Linked DNA regions of Homo sapiens: region 1 is linked to region 2. Evidence: fine-mapped expression QTL. A gene starts in region 2. The other region holds a variant in brackets. All regions are shown on one strand. Distances are between the middles of the regions.

Evidence for each region.
Region 1: its variant is fine-mapped to the expression of GABRA3 in esophagus mucosa (GTEx, PIP 0.99).

Annotation. Positions count from the first base shown.
Region 1 is chrX:152,236,581-152,244,580 of GRCh38, forward strand. All of the region lies in intron 5 of GABRA3 (gamma-aminobutyric acid type A receptor subunit alpha3), which reads right to left. Among named protein-coding and RNA genes, the nearest start is that of MAGEA10, 100 kb to the left of the region's middle. The variant T/A (reference allele first, on the strand shown) is at 3,389.
Region 2 is chrX:152,445,013-152,456,947 of GRCh38, forward strand. It overlaps GABRA3 (gamma-aminobutyric acid type A receptor subunit alpha3), which reads right to left and starts at 6,303. Exons shown (of 10, transcript NM_000808.4): 1 at 6,134-6,303.

The DNA of each region.
Region 1 (8,000 bases), 210 kb before region 2:
CAATGGTTGAACTAGTTTACAGTCCCACCAACAGTGTAAAAGTGTTCCTATTTCTCCACATCTTGTCCAGCACCTGTTGTTTCCTGACTTTTTAATGATTGCCATTCTAACTGGTGTGAGATGGTATCTCATTGTGGTTTTGATTTGCATTTCTCTGATGGCCAGTGATGATGAGCATTTTTTCATGTGTTTTTTGGCTGCATAAATGTCTTCTTTTGAGAAGTGTCTGTTCATGTCTTTCGCCCACTTTTTGATGGGGTTGTTTGTTTTTTTCTTGTAAATTTGTTTGAGTTCATTGTAGATTCTGGATATTAGCCCTTTGTCAGATGAGTAGGTTGCGAAAATTTTCTCCCATTTTGTAGGTTGCCTGTTCACTCTGATGGTAGTTTCTTTAGTTGTGCAGAAGCTCTTTAGTTTAATTAGATCCCATTTGTCAATTTTGGCTTTTGTTGCCATTGCTTTTGGTGTTTTGGACATGAAGTCCTTGCCCATGCCTATGTCCTGAATGGTATTGCCTAGGTTTTCTTCTAGGGTTTTTATGGTTTTAGGTCTAACGTTTAAATCTCTAATCCATCTTGAATTGATTTTTGTCTAAGGTGTAAGGAAGGGATCCAGTTTCAGCTTTCTCCATATGGCTAGCCAGTTTTCCCAGCACCATTTATTAAATAGGGAATCCTTTCCCCATTTCTTGTTTTTCTCAGGTTTGTCAAAGATCAGATAGTTGTAGATATGTGGTGTTATTTCTGAGGGCTCTGTTCTGTTCCATTGATCTATATCTCTGTTTTGGTACCAGTACCATGCTGTTTTGGTTACTGTAGCCTTGTAGTATAGTTTGAAGTCAGGTAGTGTCATGCCTCCAGCTTTGTTCTTTTGGCTTAGGATTGACTTGGCAATGCGGGCTCTTTTTTGGTTCCATATGAACTTTAAAGTAGTTTTTTCCAATTCTGTGAAGAAAGTCATTGGTAGCTTGATGGGGATGGCATTGAATCTGTAAATTACCTTGGGCAGTATGGCCATTTTCACGATATTGATTCTTCCTACCCATGAGCATGGAATATTCTTCCATTTGTATCCTCTTTTATTTCCTTGAGCAGTGGTTTGTGGTTCTCCTTGAAGAGGTCCTTCACATCCCTTGTAAGTTGGATTCCTAGGTATTTTATTCTCTTTGAAGCAATTGTGAATGGGAGTTCACTCATGATTTGGTTCTCTGTTTGTCTGTTGTTGGTGTATAAGAATGCTTGTGATTTTTGTACATTGATTTTGTATCCTGAGACTTTGCTGAAGTTGCTTATCAGCTTAAGGATATTTTGGGCTGAGACAATGGGGTTTTCTAGATATACAATCATGTCATCTGCAAACAGGGACAATTTGACTCCCTCTTTTCCTACTTGAATACCCTTTATTTCCTTCTCCTGCCTGATTGCCCTGGCCAGAACTTCCAACACTATGTTGAATAGGAGTGGTGAGAGAGGGCATCCCTGTCTTGTGCCAGTTTTCAAAGGGAATGCTTCCAGTTTTTGCCTATTCAGTATGATATTGGCTGTGGGTTTGTCATAGATAGCTCTTATTATTTTGAAATACATCCCATCAATACCTAATTTATTGAGAGTTTTTATCATGAAGGGTTGTTGAATTTTGTCAAAGGCTTTTTCTGCATCTATTGAGATAATCATGTGGTTTTTGTCTTTGGCTCTGTTTATATGCTGGATTACATTTATTGATTTGTGTATATTGAACCAGCCTTGCATCCCAGGGATGAAGCCCACTTGATCATGGTGGATAAGCTTTTTGATGTGCTGCTGGATTCGTTTTGCCAGTATTTTATTGAGGATTTTTGCATCATTGTTCATCAAGGATATTGGTCTAAAATTCTCTTTTTTGGTTGTGTCTCTGCCCGGCTTTGGTATCAGAATGATGCTGGCCTCATAAAATGAGTTAGGGAGGATTCACTCTTTTTCTATTGATTGGAATAGTTTCAGAAGGAATGGTACCAGTTCCTCCTTGTACCTCTGGTAGAATTCAGCTGTGAATCCATCTGGTCCTGGACTCTTTTTGGTTGGTAAACTATTGATTATTGCAACAATTTCAGCTCCTGTTATTGGTCTATTCAGAGATTCAACTTCTTCCTGGTTTAGTCTTGGGAGAGTGTATGTGTCGAGGAATTTATCCATTTCTTCTAGATTTTCTAGTTTATTTGCATAGAGGTGTTTGTAGTATTCTCTGATGGTAGTTTGTATTTCTGTGGGATCAGTGGTGATATCCCCTTTATCATTTTTTATTGTGTCTATTTGATTCTTCTCTCTTTTTTTCTTCATTAGCCTTGCTAGTGGTCTATCAATTTTGTTGATCCTTTCAAAAAACCAGCTCCTGGATTCATTGATTTTTTGAAGGGTTTCTTGTGTCTCTATTTCCTTCAGTTCTGCTCTGATTTTAGTTATTTCTTGCCTTCTGCTAGCTGTTGAATGTGTTTGCTCTTGCTTTTCTAGTTCTTTTAATTGTGATGTTAGGGTGTCAATTTTGGATCTTTCCTGCTTTCTCTTGTGGGCATTTAGTGCTATAAATTTCCCTCTACACACTGCTTTGAATGCGTCCCAGAGATTCTGGTATGTTGTGTCTTTGTTCTCGTTGGTTTCAAAGAACATCTTTATTTCTGCCTTCATTTCGTTATGTACCCAGTAGTCATTCAGGAGCAGGTTGTTCAGTTTCCATGTAGTTGAGAGGCTTTGAGTGAGATTCTTAATACTGAGTTCTAGTTTGATTGCACTGTGGTCTGAGAGATAGTTTGTTATCATTTCTGTTCTTTTACATTTGCTGAGGAGAGCTTTTCTTCCAACTATGTGGTCAATTTTGGAATAGGTGTGGTGTGGTGCTGAAAAAAATGTATATTCTGTTGATTTGGGGTGGAGAGTTCTGTAGATGTCTATTAGGTCCACTTGGTGCAGAGCTGAGTTCAATTCCTGGGTATCCTTGTTGACTTTCTGTCTCGTTGATCTGTCTAATGTTGACAGTGGGGTGTTAAAGTCTCCCATTATTATTGTGTGGGAGTCTAAGTCTCTTTGTAGGTCACTCAGGACTTGCTTTATGAATCTGGGTGCTCCTGTATTGGGTGCATATATATTTAGGATAGTTAGCTCTTCTTGTTGAATTGATCCCTTTACCATTATGTAATGGCCTTCTTTGTCTCTTTTGATCTTTGTTGGTTTCAAGTCTGTTTTATCAGAGACGAGGATTGCAACCCCTGCCTTTTTTTGTTTTCCATTAGCTTGGTAGATCTTCCTCCATCCTTTTATTTTGAGCCTATGTGTGTCTCTGCACGTGAGATGGGTTTGCTGAATACAGCACACTGATGGGTCTTGACTCTTTATCCAATTTGCCAGTCTGTGTCTTT[T/A]AATTGGAGAATTTAGTCCATTTACATTTAAAGTTAATATTGTTATGTGTGAATTTGATCCTGTCATTATGATGTTAGCTGGTGATTTTGCTCGTTAGTTGATGCAGTTTCTTCCTAGTCTCGATGGTCTTTACATTTTGGCATGATTTTGCAGCAGCTGGTACCGGTTGTTCCTTTCCATGTTTAGCGCTTCCTTCAGGAGCACTTTTAGGGCAGGCCTGGTGGTGACAAAATCTCTCAGCATTGGCTTGTCTGTGAAGTATTTTATTTCTCCTTCACTTATGAAGCTTAGTTTGGCTGGATATGAAATTCTGGTTTGAAAATTCTTTTCTTTAAGAACGTTGAATATTGGCCCCCACTCTCTTCTGGCTTGTAGGGTTTCTGCTGAGAGATCCGCTGTTAGTCTGATGGGCTTCCCTTTGAGGGTAACCCGACCTTTCTCTCTGGCTGCCCTTAACATTTTTTCCTTCATTTCAACTTTGGTGAATCTGACAATTATGTGTCTTGGAGTTGCTCTTCTCGAGGAGTATCTTTGTGGTGTTCTCTGTATTTCCTGAATCTGAACGTTGGCCTGCCTTGCTAGATTGGGGAAGTTCTCCTGGATAATATCCTGCAGAGTGTTTTCCAACTTGGTTCCATTCTCCCCATCACTTTCAGGTACATCAATCAGACGTAGATTTGGTCTTTTCACATAGTCCCATATTTCTTGGAGGCTTTGCTCATATCTTTTTATTCTTTTTTCTCTAAACTTCCCTTCTCGCTTCATTTCATTCATTTCATCTTCCATTACTGATACCCTTTCTTCCAGTTGATCGCATCGGCTCCTGAGGCTTCTGCATTCTTCACGTAGTTCTCGAGCCTTGGTTTTCAGCTCCATCAGCTCCTTTAAGTACTTCTCTGTATTGGTTATTCTAGTTATACATTCTTCTAAATTTTTTTCAAAGTTTTCAACTTCTTTGCCTTTGGTTTGAATGTCCTCCCGTAGCTCAGAGTAATTTGATCGTCTGAAGCCTTCTTCTCTCAGCTCGTCAAAGTCATTCTCCATCCAGCTTTGTTCCGTTGCTGGTGAGGAACTGCGTTCCTTTGGAGGAGGAGAAGAGGCGCTCTGCGTTTTAGAGTTTCCAGTTTTTCTGTTCTGTTTTTTCCCCATCTTTGTGGTTTTATCTACTTTTGGTCTTTGATGATGGTGATGTACAGATGGGTTTTCGGTGTGGATGTCCTTTCTGTTTGTTAGTTTTCCTTCTAACAGACAGGACCCTCAGCTGCAGGTCTGTTGGAATACCCTGCAGTGTGAGGTGTCAGTGTGCCCCTGCTGGGGGGTGCCTCCCAGTTAGGCTGCTCAGGGGTCAGGGGTCAGGGGTCAGGGACCCACTTGAGGAGGCAGTCTGCCGGTTCTCAGATCTCCAGCTGCGTGCTGGGAGAACCACTGCTCTCTTCAAAGCTGTCAGACAGGGACACTTAAGTCTGCAGAGGTTACTGCTGTCTTTTTGTTTCTCTGTGCCCTGCCCCCAGAGGTGGAGCCTACAGAGGCAGGCAGGCCTCCTTGAGCTGTGGTGGGCTCCACCCAGTTCGAGCTTCCCGGCTGCTTTGTTTACCTAAGCAAGCCTGGGCAATGGCGGGCGCCCCTCCCCCAGCCTCGCTGCTGCTTTGCAGTTTGATCTCAGACTGCTGTGCTAGCAATCAGCGAGATTCCGTGGGCGTAGGACCCTCTGAGCCAGGTGTGGGATATAGTCTCGTGGTGCGCCGTTTCTTAAGCCGGTCTGAAAAGCGCAATATTCGGGTGGGAGTGACCCGATTTTCCAGGTGCGTCCGTCACCCCTTTCTTGGACTCAGAAAGGGAACTCCCTGACCCCTTGCTCTTCCCAAGTGAGGCAATGCCTCGCCCTGCTTGGGCTCGCACACGGTGCGCGCACCCACTGGCCTGCACCCACTGTCTGGCACTCCCTAGTTAGATAAACCCGGTACCTCAGATGGAAATGCAGAAATCACCCGTCTTCTGCGTCGCTCACGCTGGGAGCTGTAGACCGGAGCTGTTCCTATTCGGCCATCTTGGCTCCTCCTATTTGATTTCTATAGTACTCAAAACAGCATGGTACTAACAAAAAAACAAACACATAGACCAATGGAACAGAATAGAGAGCCCAGAAATAGATCTGCACATTTACAGTCAATTGGTTTTCATAAAAGATGCCAAGGACACACTATGGGGGAAAGAACAGTCTCTTCAATAAATGGTGTTGGGAAAACAGGATATCCACATACAGAAGAATGAAATTGGACCCCATTTACACCATACTCAAAAGTCAACTCAATATATTTTGAGTTGAAACTATAAAACTAGTAGAAGAAAACAGAGAGAGAAAGCTCAACAGCACTGGCCTGGGCAATGATATTTTTTGCAAATGACCCCAAAAGCATAGGCAACAAAAGCAGAAATAGCCAAATGGCATTACATCAACCTAAAAAGCTTCTGCACATCCAAGGAAACAGTTAACACAGTGAAGAGATAACCTATGGAACGGGAGAAAATATTGCATACTATATATCAAATAAAGGGTTAATATTCAAAATACATAAGGAACTCAAACAACAATAGCAAGAAAACAAATAGCCCAATTTTTAATATAGGCAAAGGATCTGAATAAATGTTTGTCTTAGATGTATGAAAAGAGGCTCAACTTCATAAATAATCAGAGAAATTCAAATCAAAACCACAATCAGATATTACCTCACACCTGTTAGGATGGCTACTATCAAAAAGATAAAAGATAGGTGTTGGCGAGAATGTGGAGAAAAGAGAACTCTTTCATACGGCCATTATAAAAAACAGTATGGAGGTTCCTCAAAAATTAAAAATAGAAATACCATATAACCCAGCAATCCCACTACTGTGTGTACATGCATCCAAAGGAAATGAAATCAGTATGTTGAAGAAATATCTGCATTTTCATGTTTATTTCAGCATTATTCACAATAGCCAAGATACGGAATCAATTTAAGCATTCATTGGTGGATAAATGGATAAAAAGATGTGGTATATATACACAATAAAATACTACCTGGCCTTAGAAGAAAAGGAAATCCTGCCACTTGCGACAACATGGAGGACATTATCTTAAGCAAAATAAGCCACACTCAGAAAGACAAATACTCTACAATCTCATTTATATGTGGAGTGTATAAAAGTTGGACTCATAGAAAGAGAGTAGAATGGTGGCCAGGAAGTGGGAGGATTGAGGAGATGTTGGTCAAAGAATATAAAATTTCAGTTACACAGGAAAAATAAATTCAAGAGATCTATTGTACAACATGGTGAGTATAGTTAATAACAGTGTTTTATATATTTAAAAATCGCTGAGAGCAGAATTTACGTGTTCTCAGCACAAAAATTGAGATGTGAGGTAATGCATATGAAAATTAGCTTGATTTAGCTATTCCCCAATGCATAAATATATCAAGACATTCTGTTGTACACCATAAATACATATTATTTTTATTTATTTATTATAAACAGAGCATGGATTCCAAAGCCAGACTGCCAGATTTAAAACCCAGGTCCACCATGAACCCAGCTTGTAGTAGTAGCTATGTGTAAGTTACTTCAGTTCTCTGTGTCTTGTTAGCTAACACCTTGCAGATGCTAATTGAAGCCCTAAGACTAGATGATACTACAAAAGGAGTGATGTATCTAGGGAAGACAAGAAGTCTAACGACTGAGATTCAGCATACTGGGTTCATGTCTTTCCACTGACTCTCCACACATCTCAGGCAGAAGGTATATGTATCAGAATCTTGAAGGAGGGAGGGGAAATGAAGCAAGCAGTAAACCATAAACTGCATATGGTCATTTGAAACATTTGGTCCAGCAATTATGCTATGCCATCTCATTGGGTTCAAAATCCCTGCTATTGACTAAAAGTCACAGGGTAAATAATTTCTTTCTATACCTTTGGAATAGAGACAAATTAGTGACTTGGCTATTTGGTGCCCTTATCTCATCTTTATTGGAAATACCTAAGTACATTTTCAAAACAAGCAAACATATCAGAGATTATTCTTACTGTATGATTTGCTGATTTTTAACATTTTATTATACCATTGATACAAAAGCCAGTATTTACTTTGCATTTATTATACAGTGCTTTGCATATTAAGGATATTTTTGCTGGTACATATGTCTTGTCTCCTGAACTAGATTGAATACCACATGTAAGTCATTTGCTTTTTGATGGAAATCCATGCAACACACTAACCCAATGAGTAAATTTTCCAACTCAGAAACTGTTACATCCATGTCTTCAGTGCCTGCTGTGGTCTGAATGTTTGTGTCCCCCTGAAATTAAAATGTTGAAATATTAATATAACCACTAATGTGATAGTATTAAGTGATAGGGCATTAGAGAAGTGATTAGGTCAGGAGGGCTCTGTCCTCTTGAATGGGGTTACTGGCCCTATAAAAGTGACCTAAAGGAAAATGTTAGTCTCTTCTGCCATGTGAGGACACAGCAAAAAGTTGCCATATTTGAAGCAGAGAGGTAGCCTTTAGACACTGAATGTACTGGAGCCTTGATCTTGGCCTTCCTGACCTCAAGAACAGTGAGAAATAAGTTCT
Region 2 (11,935 bases):
ATCCCGCCACTGCACTCCAGCCTGGGCAACAGAGTGAGACTCCGTCTCAAAAAAAAAAAAAAAAAAAAAAAAAAATACTTGTGTTTTTTAAGAAATCAGTTTTTAAAGAGAAAAGTACCCTTCAAAATATATATCCTGGAGATTTTTATTCCCCCTTCTGTGTATATTCAGGAGACATATTTTGTGCAGACATCAATACGTTTAAAATCATGCTTTTAAGTATAAAAATGCTTTTATATTACCAACTAGTATTTCCCTTCACATACATCTTCCCCCCAGGAAGAGACTACCTGGACCATTACATTTCAGAATGAGATAATCACCTTGTGTGTATTTAACAGTATTATGCCCCATCTTATTCTCAGTGACTTTAGTTTATTTCAAACCAGCAGTAATAGAAATACCACCTAATATCCAACTTTACTATATATTTTACAATACGGTCAGTTCTTTCCTTAACTCTCAGGACAGTTACAATTTCAGTCACCTCAGGAATAAAAAATGGAAGGTGCATTTCAATGACCCCTTCCAAAGTCTGTGAATACTCCCACCAAAATTATCAACCTTCAGAATTCTGTATAAAGTTATTAGTGTTGCTTATAGAAGTGACCAAACCTGAGCTACCTGCACAGAACCATGATAACACAATATAGAGCAGAACATGAACTATAGAACCTTACAGCTTGGAGGCTCTTTCTAAATATCTTAATGGATTCATGTCAGTCACCCTATTCAAAACCCTTTTCCAAACCTCCCCCCACCGTATTTTACAGTTATGGAAACAGGCTCCAACAAGACAAGTGATATGTCACAACAAACCGAGTATCCAAGTCAGGACTAGGCTATCAGAAATCCCATTTTAAGAGGGATTTTTAATATCAAATTCTTCATATTTTTTATCAAGTGCCTCTTCCTATAAATTGCTGAATAGAGAGAGTTGGAGGACCTGGGAAAGGCACTGGGTCTTTGTGAATTTCAGTTAAGCTACATGACATATAACCTAGTTTTTAAGTAAGTCACTGCTCCTGTGGACATGAGCCTGGAGGGACCCTTCCCTTCCCTTACTATTGAAGCACAGTCATCTGCCAAACATTTGCAAAATGCGTATGCATCATCCAACTGAAGTGTTGGTAGGCACTGTGACCATCAGAGTGGGAAGGACTGTTATAAACCAGATATCATCTATCACTACTCAACTCTGCTGTGAAGTTTAATAATGCTGACCACACCTTTCTTTTTAAAGCGGTACATTTTCCTCTACATATGAATCACAATTTATGACTACATAGTTCAGTGGTCTGTCGAATAATGTCTATCTCACCATCTAAACCATGAGCCCAGGATGGCAACAACTTTGTCTGTTTTGCTCACCATTATATTCTCCATGCCTAGTAAATGTTATGTATGCAAGAAATAAATTAGAAGGTGCCTCTCCTCTCTTGGCACCTTCATAACACTGTACTCTTCTAATTTTCCTTCCATATCCCTGACTTTTTCTCCTTTGTAGCCTTCACATAAGGTTCATTGTTCTCTCCCATATCCTAAAAAAAAAAAAAGCATTCTTCAAAGTACCACCCCTGAATCTCTTTTATTCTATTTCAAGTATTGAGAGGCAATGACTCTCAAATCACTCTCTCCTACTGACTTCTTTCCAGAGTTCCAATCCCATATTTTCAAATGTGCTCAGTACCTTTTACTGGGCTACAACAATATTACTACCTGTGTGGCCTCAGGCAAATCAAGTCCCTCACCCTGTCAAGATGGGTTTGCTCATCCACAAAATGAGGGAGTTGCATCTCCTTTGCATATAAAGTCCTAATTTTCCCATCTAGCATTCAGTATGATTGACAGTCAAGCCCTCCATCTATCTTGCCAAACACATCCCACATAAGTATTTCTGCATACACTTTACTCCAACACAACTAGCCTCTGAATAGAATACCTTTCCCATCCCCCAATTCTGCACACTCAAAGTTTGTCTCATCTTCAAAGCTCATTTCAAATGCCACTTCCAGGAAGGTGTCTTTGATCTCCTTAAAGCCCTTTGCTTCTCTCTTATGGGTGTAGATCTCATCTCCTAATACTATAGTTGTTTGTCTATTTCTTCTCTTTCCTACTTGACTGTGTCATCTTGGAGGGCAGAGGCTATTCTTAAATAATCCTGTATCTCCCACATTATCTTTGGTTCATCATAGGCACTTAGTAACCTTATATTGAATAGATTCCATTTAAGCCATGTCAGTTATCCTGCTCAAAGCCCTTTAATCAGTCCCACTCTTTCTAGAATAAAGACCAACAGCCTTATAATGGCCCACTCCAGCAATCCCTTCAAAATAAAATTGAGATACCAAGTAACCCTCTGAAGTAGTCAAGTTGGCTTTCTATCCACTGTAAGAAATTTTTAAAATGGGATGAATCCTGTTTCCCCAATGCAGAAGAAAGCCCAAATTACCTTTCCTTTATTGAATGTATGGCCCCACAACTAATGTCAAATGGTTCATTCATTTATTTAAAAAACATCTGTTAAGCCTCCTACTCTATGTCATATACTAGGCTAATGGCTAACGGTATAATTAACTGAACTGATACAGCCCTTCACCCACTTGGAATATATAACTGAAAGCGTAATTTGTAGAAACTCTAAGGAAATTAAGAGTTTTAAGAAAAAACAAACATTTTATCTGTCACAACACATGAACAATGCAACTTTGTGTAAATGTTAAATTCTTCATTAAAGGAGATATTTAACTGTAGGGTAAAAGATCATGACAGGTGATTTAGAAATTAAAGCTGGGTCTAATTTGGGCCTCTTAAATTAGATGGGCAGGTAGCCTAGACCAGTGCACTCAAAATGTAGCCCGCCAAATCAGTGCCTGTCTGTGAACTTTTATTACCAGGCAGTAAGGACCAAAGTACAGAAGTCAAGAGTAAGCACTTAGAAAATGTTACAGCAATTTGAAAAAATCATTTTATGTCTGTAGAATCTAATAATACAAATGCGGGCTTATCTTTTGTATGTCTTTTCTTTCATTTTCTAGTAATTCATGGTTAATTTATTTTACTAAATTAACAGTCTTCTGTGATGGATTAGGAAACAAACAAACAAATGACAACAAACATTTTCCTTCACTAGGGGAGTTTGACCAGTACTCTACTAGAGCTTTGCTACTTGAAGTGTGGTCAGTGGAACAGCAGTTTCAGGATCACCTAATAGATTGCTAAAATGCAAAATCCGAGGCCCCTGCCATAGACTCTCTGAATCACAATTCGCATTTTAACAAGATTCCCAGGAGATATTTTTACACATTAAAGTTTGAGAAGCACTGGCCTAACGATTTCCGAAGCCTCTCATAACTCTGAAATCTTATAATTTACTTCAGATAGAGAATTTCAGAGTTGAAAGACCCTCAGAGACACAGTCCATCTCAACATCTTACAGATGGAAAAACTGAGGCACATGGAGGGGAAGTCATATGTCCAAGATAATCAGCAAATCATCTGAGCTAGGAATGGAACCCAAATTTGCTAACAGCCAAGTCAGTGTTCCATTCTAGCAACCACATACTCACCCCTTTCCACCCAGTCCCACTGCATTGTATCCCCTCAGTGATGTAATTATTCCTGAGGTGTTTTCTGATAAAACAATATATTCTTCTACCTTCTGCATACTGTATGAACCTTGAACTACCACTATTTCAAATGTGGTACTTTTCTTCATGAAATTAGAAAATTTCATAATTTTCTTTATGAAAATTCCTGCCACTCAAATCTTCCCACACGCCTATTGTCCGGATGCCATATAGACATCCTGGGGGCTTTAGAAGGACTAGTACTAACCAATTTCTGGTCTTTAGGAATATGAAAGCGACCTTCCTTGCTCCCATCAGTCCAGTTGACACCAGATAGCAAGCTCATCCAAGGAAGAGAATATACACTATCAGGGCTGCTCTAGAAAACTCCGTAGGGTCAATTTGTGGCTAACAAAACAAGTGGGCTATTAGGCCATATTAAGAATAGTCTAATATCCAGCATGAAGTAAATGATAATCCTTTACTCTGTGGTCTTATTGGATCCAAGGGTTAAGAGGGAGGCATGATTGCTGTCTTCAACTAACTGAAGAACTATTATTAAGAAAAAGCAAATTTGTTCCAGATAGTCCCAAAGAACCAACGAATATAAGTTACTGGGAAACAGACTTTGGCTTATGATGGGGAATACTTTCTGACAATCAGAGTTGCTCCATGACACAAAGAGCCACCTAATGCACTCTCTGTCACTGCAGGGAGTTCAACTAGAAATCAGTCAACAAATTGGATGCTTAGGATAAATTCAAGAACTGAGTAGAGAAATAAAGCTTAATGAATGACCTTTTGGGCTCCTTCCAGTTCCAAGGTTTTAGTATTCTAAAATTTTCGGCACAGAACAACTCCAAATGCTCAGGAAATAAGAATGAGGTCTGTTTTTAAAAGGTGCAGTTTGGAGCATGTTGGGTGGATGAGGCTATAAAAAGTGAAGTACGATTTTCAAGGAAAGGAAGCTGACCAATCAAAGTCTTTTGGGCAGCCCCTCCAGAAATCCAGGTGAAGCCCGGCTCCAGGCTGAGTTGCTGTTACTCTACACGAAAGCCAGGCCGCTACTTTCCAAAAAACCTTGCCAAGCCACACTGTACCTATTGTATCTACACTTGCCTAACAGACAAAGGTGCAAAATTCTCCCCAAGAAGGCAGTAGTGCTTCATGGTTAAGACCACGGATTCTGGAACCAGGTTGCCAGTTTAATTTCCAACTGAGACATGTAATTGCTCTGTAATCTTGGATAAGTTACTTAACCTCTCTGTGCCTCAATTTTGTGAGTAAACCAAAGATAATAATAGTGTCTGTTATTCAATGCACTATTCTGCTACAGTAATTTAATGAAGTAATACACACCAAACACTCAGCCCAGAATCCAAAATATACTACATACTCGATAATTTTAGCAATTAGTATTAGGGATGTCAGAATTACTACCACAGGCACAGCAGCGTCACTCACTTAGAAAGCTCCCATCAAACAATTGGATCCCTTCCCCTACCAGTTCTGAAGGGCTATACTACAAGAGCCTCAATCAGTCTTTGCAGAGCTCCAGACAACCAGAACTTGCTGACTCTCAATAAGCCAAACTACTCACGTTAGTAATCCTACCTCATCACCCTGCTTTCCATAAATCCAACAGCCACCCTTCCCCCAGTCCTCTTGCCCATGCCACCCGCAGCCACAGCCACAGCCACAGTCAGAGGAGCAACAAACTGGGAGGCCAGTTGCAGACAAACCATCAGGTGTTTCCTCCCTTCCAAGGACACAGCTGGACTTAACATGATGCCTATGAGTGAGATGGGGTGGGGTATCTCAATCTCTGATCTAGGATGTCAGCTCAATTATCTGGAATTGAGGGTGGGCAGGCAATGGAGCTTCTCGCCGGGAAACAAGGCAAACCTCCCAAGTTTGTGGAGGAAGTCAGGCCCAACCCCACAGTGAGCCCCTCAAAGGAAGGGGGGAGGGCTCAATCTGCTTTAAAGGAAGCAGTTATTTACAACTTTCTACTCACTTGCATGTGGGGGAGGTAATGGGGAGATGGGGAAAGAGGCTGCAAGGTACCCTCCTTCTTTCTTATTTCCAGCAGTGAGAAGCAGCTGCGGAGAAAGAGTTAAAGAAGGGAGAAAGCTCCAGCCATTACTACATCCCTGGTGCCTAGAGCTGTCTGGGGGGTCATGACAGTGCTGTCTGCTTTGGCTAGGGGCCACTCCGTGGCTTTCTGCAGCAGCTGCTGGGGCCCCCCAAGCAATTTGCAAGGTCAGTGCTGACCTGCTTCCAAAGAGGAACAAAACAATTCACTGACAATGAAGCAAATCACGCATATACCACATCGCAACCCCCCTTCCTCAAATCGGGTTTTACCCCAGTGTCTCCCTGCTCAGATGCCGCCTCTGGGCTTCCACCAGCCCCACTGGGGAACCCAGGATAGCATCACAGCTGCAGAGCATGCCTCGCCTCCCGGCCAACCCAAGGAGACTCTCAGTACGGGGGAGAGATGCTATCGCTAAAGGAGACCTGAGCTTGGGGGAGGGGGAAGAAGGAACATCAATGTTTCTTACCGAGCTCTACAGTCTGAGCGGAAAGGAGAGAAGGATGAATGAACTGAAACAAGTTGGAGGTTGAGCCCTGACAGAGCTCGGCTTCTGGCTTCTTCTTCTCTCTCTGGGTCTCTCTCCTGGTCCCTCTCTCGGTCTGTCTCTCTGGTTTGCTCGCTAGCTTGCGCGCGCTCACGCTCTCTCGCTCTCTCTCTCTCTCTCTCTCTCTCTCTCTCTCTCTCTCAATCTGCCTCCCTCCCTCTCTGTCAGTTTCTCCCTCCCCTCCTCCCCTCCCCTTCTCCCCTCCCCCTTTGCTGGCTTTAGGTTCACCACTGGTGCTTAGCACGCGGCTGTGCTGGGGCTCTGAATACAGTACTGCAAGGCTTTAGATGTGGTTGTTTTACGAAATACTAAAGTAGTATTTTATTCCTTAAGGCATCCAACAGAGAAATAGAGGGAAGCCCAGAGAGAAAGGGAGGAGCAGAGGCAGCAAAGGGAAGAGAAAGAGAGCAAAAGGGTATGAGCGAATAGGAGGATAAAGGAAGTATGGGTTACTGTAGCTGATGTGTGATGCTTACTTGCTGCTCCGAGACTGAAGAGTGAGCTTCCTCCTTTTTCCCTCTGTCTCCCTTATATCCTTATGGGCGTGCCTTCTAACCCAGGCTGCAAATAAAGGTTTGACAATCCTGTCTGTTCAGATTCCATCTCTGGGGACAATAATGAGCTAGAAAAATGTACATCAAAGGGGTTGTCATTCATACTCCACTAAGAAGAAAGAGTTCCGCCACATTGATCCCCTGTTGACCTAACTTCCACCCCCACCCTCAACCAAGTAGAAGTGCAGACCCAATTCAAAACTATCAGTTCTAGCTTCCCTGTAGGTAAGACAGACAAGCAGCAGAACCACAATGCTTTCTTTTCAAAAATTCCAAAGGGAATATAGATGTATGTAATTGTGTGAGCCTATACATGAGTTGCACAAGGACTAAGGTGGGGAGAAGGATAATTATTGACTCAAAGTATAAAAGAACTATATTCCCATTGGGTCAAAAGAAAAAAAGCAACCTAGGCAAAGCACAGTAACAATGCAGCATAGAGTGGAAAAAGACCTAGGCTAAAAATAAAATAAAGGAACTTGAGTTTGAGTTCTGCCTCTGAAAATTGCTGTGTTGCTTTCAACGAGTTCTTCAATCTGGCCCTCAATATCCTCAGTGACCAAATGAATGGTAATGGAAATAGATGATCTTAAAAGACCCTTCCAGAACTAACAGTCTAGGAATCTAAAGACAGGAAAATTCCAGGTAAAGGAGAAGTTGGCCCTTAGAAAATAAAAACTAAACTGCCACATTTCAAAAGTTCTCCAAAGGTGAGTCCCCAAATGCGACTCCAAATCACATTGATTCAACATTCCATCTTTTGTGTTTCAGGGATAATACCAATATAAGCACGTGAATAAAGAGCTGTTCCTATCAAAGAATTCAGCATCTGCTTACATATAATGATTAGTATAAAAGTTTTCTTAGTCAAACTCTTCATATTGTGATTTCTAGTCCTGTTAGAAAAATTCAGAGGGCATCTAATTGAAAGTGAGTTATATAGTGTGTTTAAGTATACTAGTGTCAATATACATACAGTGACTGGGACATAATAGGCATTTACAATGTTGCCCATAGTGTGCCATTTCTCTTTAAACTACCATCCTGTTGGTTTTTTTCCCCCAAATTTCTAATGCTCTCTACTCCTGCCAAATGAAGTACATGTGCTACACTCCTATACATCTTCAAAAGCATGTGTCCATACATTGAGTAGAAGATAGATAGGTACTCGTAAGCTTAGAGTCACTGAGCTAAAGGGACCCATAAAGATAACCATGTCATTGTACAGAAAAAGAAACTAGACTAAATAGAAAATATAATTCACACAAGGTCATAGTGAGTCAGTGGCAGAATCAAGGCCAGTACTCAGATTGCTGACTGCAGGTACAGTATTTTTCTCTACAAAATTAACATGTAACTTGCACATAAAGCAAGTGTGTATGTGAGCATAAAGCTATAAATACTTTTTCCTGCATAGGTACCCATTTTCATGTGTAGATTTGTTTGCATAAATGTCCATTGGATTTAATAGATTAGTATACTGGCAAAAAGAAATATTAAGGTTGCTGTATTAGTTTTCTAGGGCTGCCATAACAAATTACCATAAATTCAGTAGCTTAAAACAACAGAAATTTATTGTCTCACAGTTCTGAAGGTCAGAAGTCTAAAATCGAGATGCTGGCAGGGTCAAACTACTCCAAAAGTTCTAGAGAATGATTTCTTGTCTCTTCCAGCTTCTGGTGGTTTCCAGTGTTCCTTGGCTTATCACTGAATCTCTGCCTCGGTCTTCAAATGGTCTTCTCCTCTGATTTCTGTGTGCCCAAATCTCCCTCTTTTTTCTTATAAAGACACCAGTCATTGGATTTAAGGCCCAACCTAAATCCGGAATGATTTCATCTCAAGATCTTTAACTACTTCCTTTTGCAAATACCATACCATTGAAATGAGGTCACACCCTGAGGTTATAGACGAACATGAATTTTGGGGGACACTATTCAGTCTACTACAATTGAAAACTTTTCATCTAATAAAGATACCAAACAAACAAATAAACCATCTGGGTGCCACCATTTATTTTAAAGAAAAGATATTTTAATATAAATAAGTTGGATTAAGACACTCTCTGAACAAAAAAACTCTTCTCTGAATCATACAATTATACCTGTATGAAAACTTCACAGCATTTTCATAATTTTCCCACTTGACTGCAAACCAAAAACAAACAAACAACAACAACAACAAAAAAAACAGAATCCTTTATTAGGAAAACTTCTGGCAATGGTGAAGAAGCTTCTATCAGACCAACCCTGATGCAGATAACAATAATAAACAGTGGACCAAATATATAATAAAACAATTTAAATGCACAGGAAAGCAACCCATAAACAGGCAAAAATTGAAAGGGAATTAATAATTGAAAGGAGGGAACAATACTAAGTGAGTTTTTCCTTTTCTGGAAATTTTTGTCTGATGGCAGCCCCCAGGCCAAAGCAGTGAATAAACTCTAGAGAAACTAGAATCAATGTTGCAACTGTTAAATGTTTAACAACTGGATCTTGAGGAAAATTAATAAAAAACAAATTCATAGTATTTGCCAATTTCAATGGTGTAAATACTTCTACCACGGACCATTCCATGAACATGGAGTTGAATAGAGATATGCACAGTAGGCATTCACAAACCAGTGTTAGCCAGCTCCCACACACAACTGCTCACAGTCCAAGTGTCTGAAAGAACCAGACGGCAGAATTCAGGATGACCACGGTAGTTGAAAAGCCATGAGAGAAATTCAATAATTTAAAAAACTAGGGAGAGGAAGCCCCAAATTCTGTGTATAAACTACCCAGCTGTCTGGTGAAACCATGAAATATTTATGTGGGAACAGATTCCAAAAAGCCTAAATAAAGCTGAAAGAATTAAACAGAGTTTTCAGTGCTGCCAATGAGGGAGAGTTTGGAGTTTCACTTCAGCCCCATTAACTGTCTACTAAAACAAACAAAATCAATGCTCTAGAGAAAAAAATAAAGGTATCCTACAATATATAATTCACTATTTTCAGGGTACACTCAAAAATTACTACCAAAGCAAAGATATAGGAAAATATTACTCATATCCAAGGAAAAAATAATAATAGAGACCAGCCCTAAGGTAAACCAGATGTTTGAATTAGGAGAAAGAATTTTAAATCACATATCATAATTACACTAAGGGAAATAAAGAAAAACACATGTGTAATAAATGAACAAATAGGAAGTCAGAATATCTGAAGTAAAATTCAGTGAGTTGGTGTTTAATGGCAGGTTGAAAATGGCAGAAGAAAGAGTAGTTTCACTGGAAGAAAAATCTAGTGATATTATCTAATCTGAAGTACAGATTAGAGAGAGAAAGATTGAAGAGGATGAGCAGAGTGTTAGAAATACATAGGATAATATCAAAGTTATAAACATAATTGGAGTCCCAGATGGCAAACAATAAGAGAAGAGGAAGAAAAAACATTTGAAACAAAAGCCTAACCACAAGACAATATCCCTGATAATTATTGATGGAAAAATCCTCAACAAAACATTAGCAAACCAAATTCAGCAATACACTAAAAAGATCATTCATCATGACCAAGTGGGATTTATCCCTGGGATGCAAGGATGGTTCAACATACACAAATCAATCAAAGGGATACATCATATCAACAGAATGAAGAACAAAAATCATATGATCATTTCAATAGATGCTGAGAAAACATTTGATAAAATTCAACATCCCTTCATGACAAAAATCTTAAAAACTGGGTGTAGAAGGAACATACCTCAACATAATAAAAACCATATACAGCAGACCCACAGCTAATATGATACTGAATGGGGAAAAACTGAAAGCCTTTCCTCTAAGATCTGGGACACAACAAGGATGCTCACATTCACCACTGTTATTCAACATAGTACTGGATGACTTAGCTAGAGCAATCAGACAAAAGAAAGATATAAAGGGCATCCACATTGGAAAGGAGGAAGTCAAATTATCTTTCCTTGCAGACATGATCTTATATTTGGAAAAACCTAAAGACTCCACAAGCACAGGAAATCAAAGCAAAAATGGACAAATGGGATCACATCAAATTACAAAGCTTTTGCCCAGAAAAGGAAGCAATCAATAATGTGAAAGGACAACCCACAGAATGGGAGAAAATATTTGTAAACTACCCATCTGATAAGGGATTAGTAACTAGAATATATAAGGAGCTAACACAACTCTATAGAAAAAAATCTAAAAATCTGATTCAAAAATGGGCAAAAAAAAACTGGATAGACTTTTCTCACAATAAAACATACAAATGGCAAACAGGCATATGAAAAGGTGCAGAACAACACTAGTCATCAGGGAAATGCAAATCAAAACTACAATGAGATACAATCTCACCTCAGTTAAAATGGCCTATATCCAAAGGATAGGCAATAACAAATGCAGGCAAGGATGTGGAGAAAAGGGAATCTTTGTACACTGTTGGTGGGAATGTAAATTAGTACAACCACTATGGAAAACGGTTTGGAGGTTCCTCAAAAAACTAAAAATACAGCTACCTCATATGGTATCCAGCAATCTCACTGCTAGGTTTATACCCAAAAGGAAGGATATCAGTATATCAAAGAGATATCTTCACTCCCTGGTACTGCAGCACTATTCACAGTAGCATAGATTTAGAAGGTACCTAAGTGTTCATCAGCAAATGAATAGATAAAGAAAATGTGGTACATATACACAATGGAATACTATTCAGGCATAAAAAAGAATGAGATCCTGTAATTTGCAAAAACATGGATTAAACTGGAGGTCATTGTGTTAAGTGAAATAAGCCAGGCACAGAAGATAAACTTTGCATATTCTCACTTATTTGTGGGAGCTGAAAATCAAAGAATTGAACCCATGGAGATACAGTGTAGAAGGATGATTACCAGAGGCTGGGAAGGGTAGTGGGGAGGGATGGTTAATGGGTAGAAAAAATAGAATGAATGAATAAGGCCTAGTATATAATAGCACAACAGGGAGGCTATAATCAATAACAATTTAATTATACATCTAGAAATGACTAAAATAGTATAATCGGATTATTTGTGAGACAAAGGATAAATGCTTGAGGGGATGAATACCTCATTTTGTATGATATGATTATTATGCATTGCATGCCTGTATCAAAACATCTCATGTACCCATAAATATACCTACTACATACCCACAA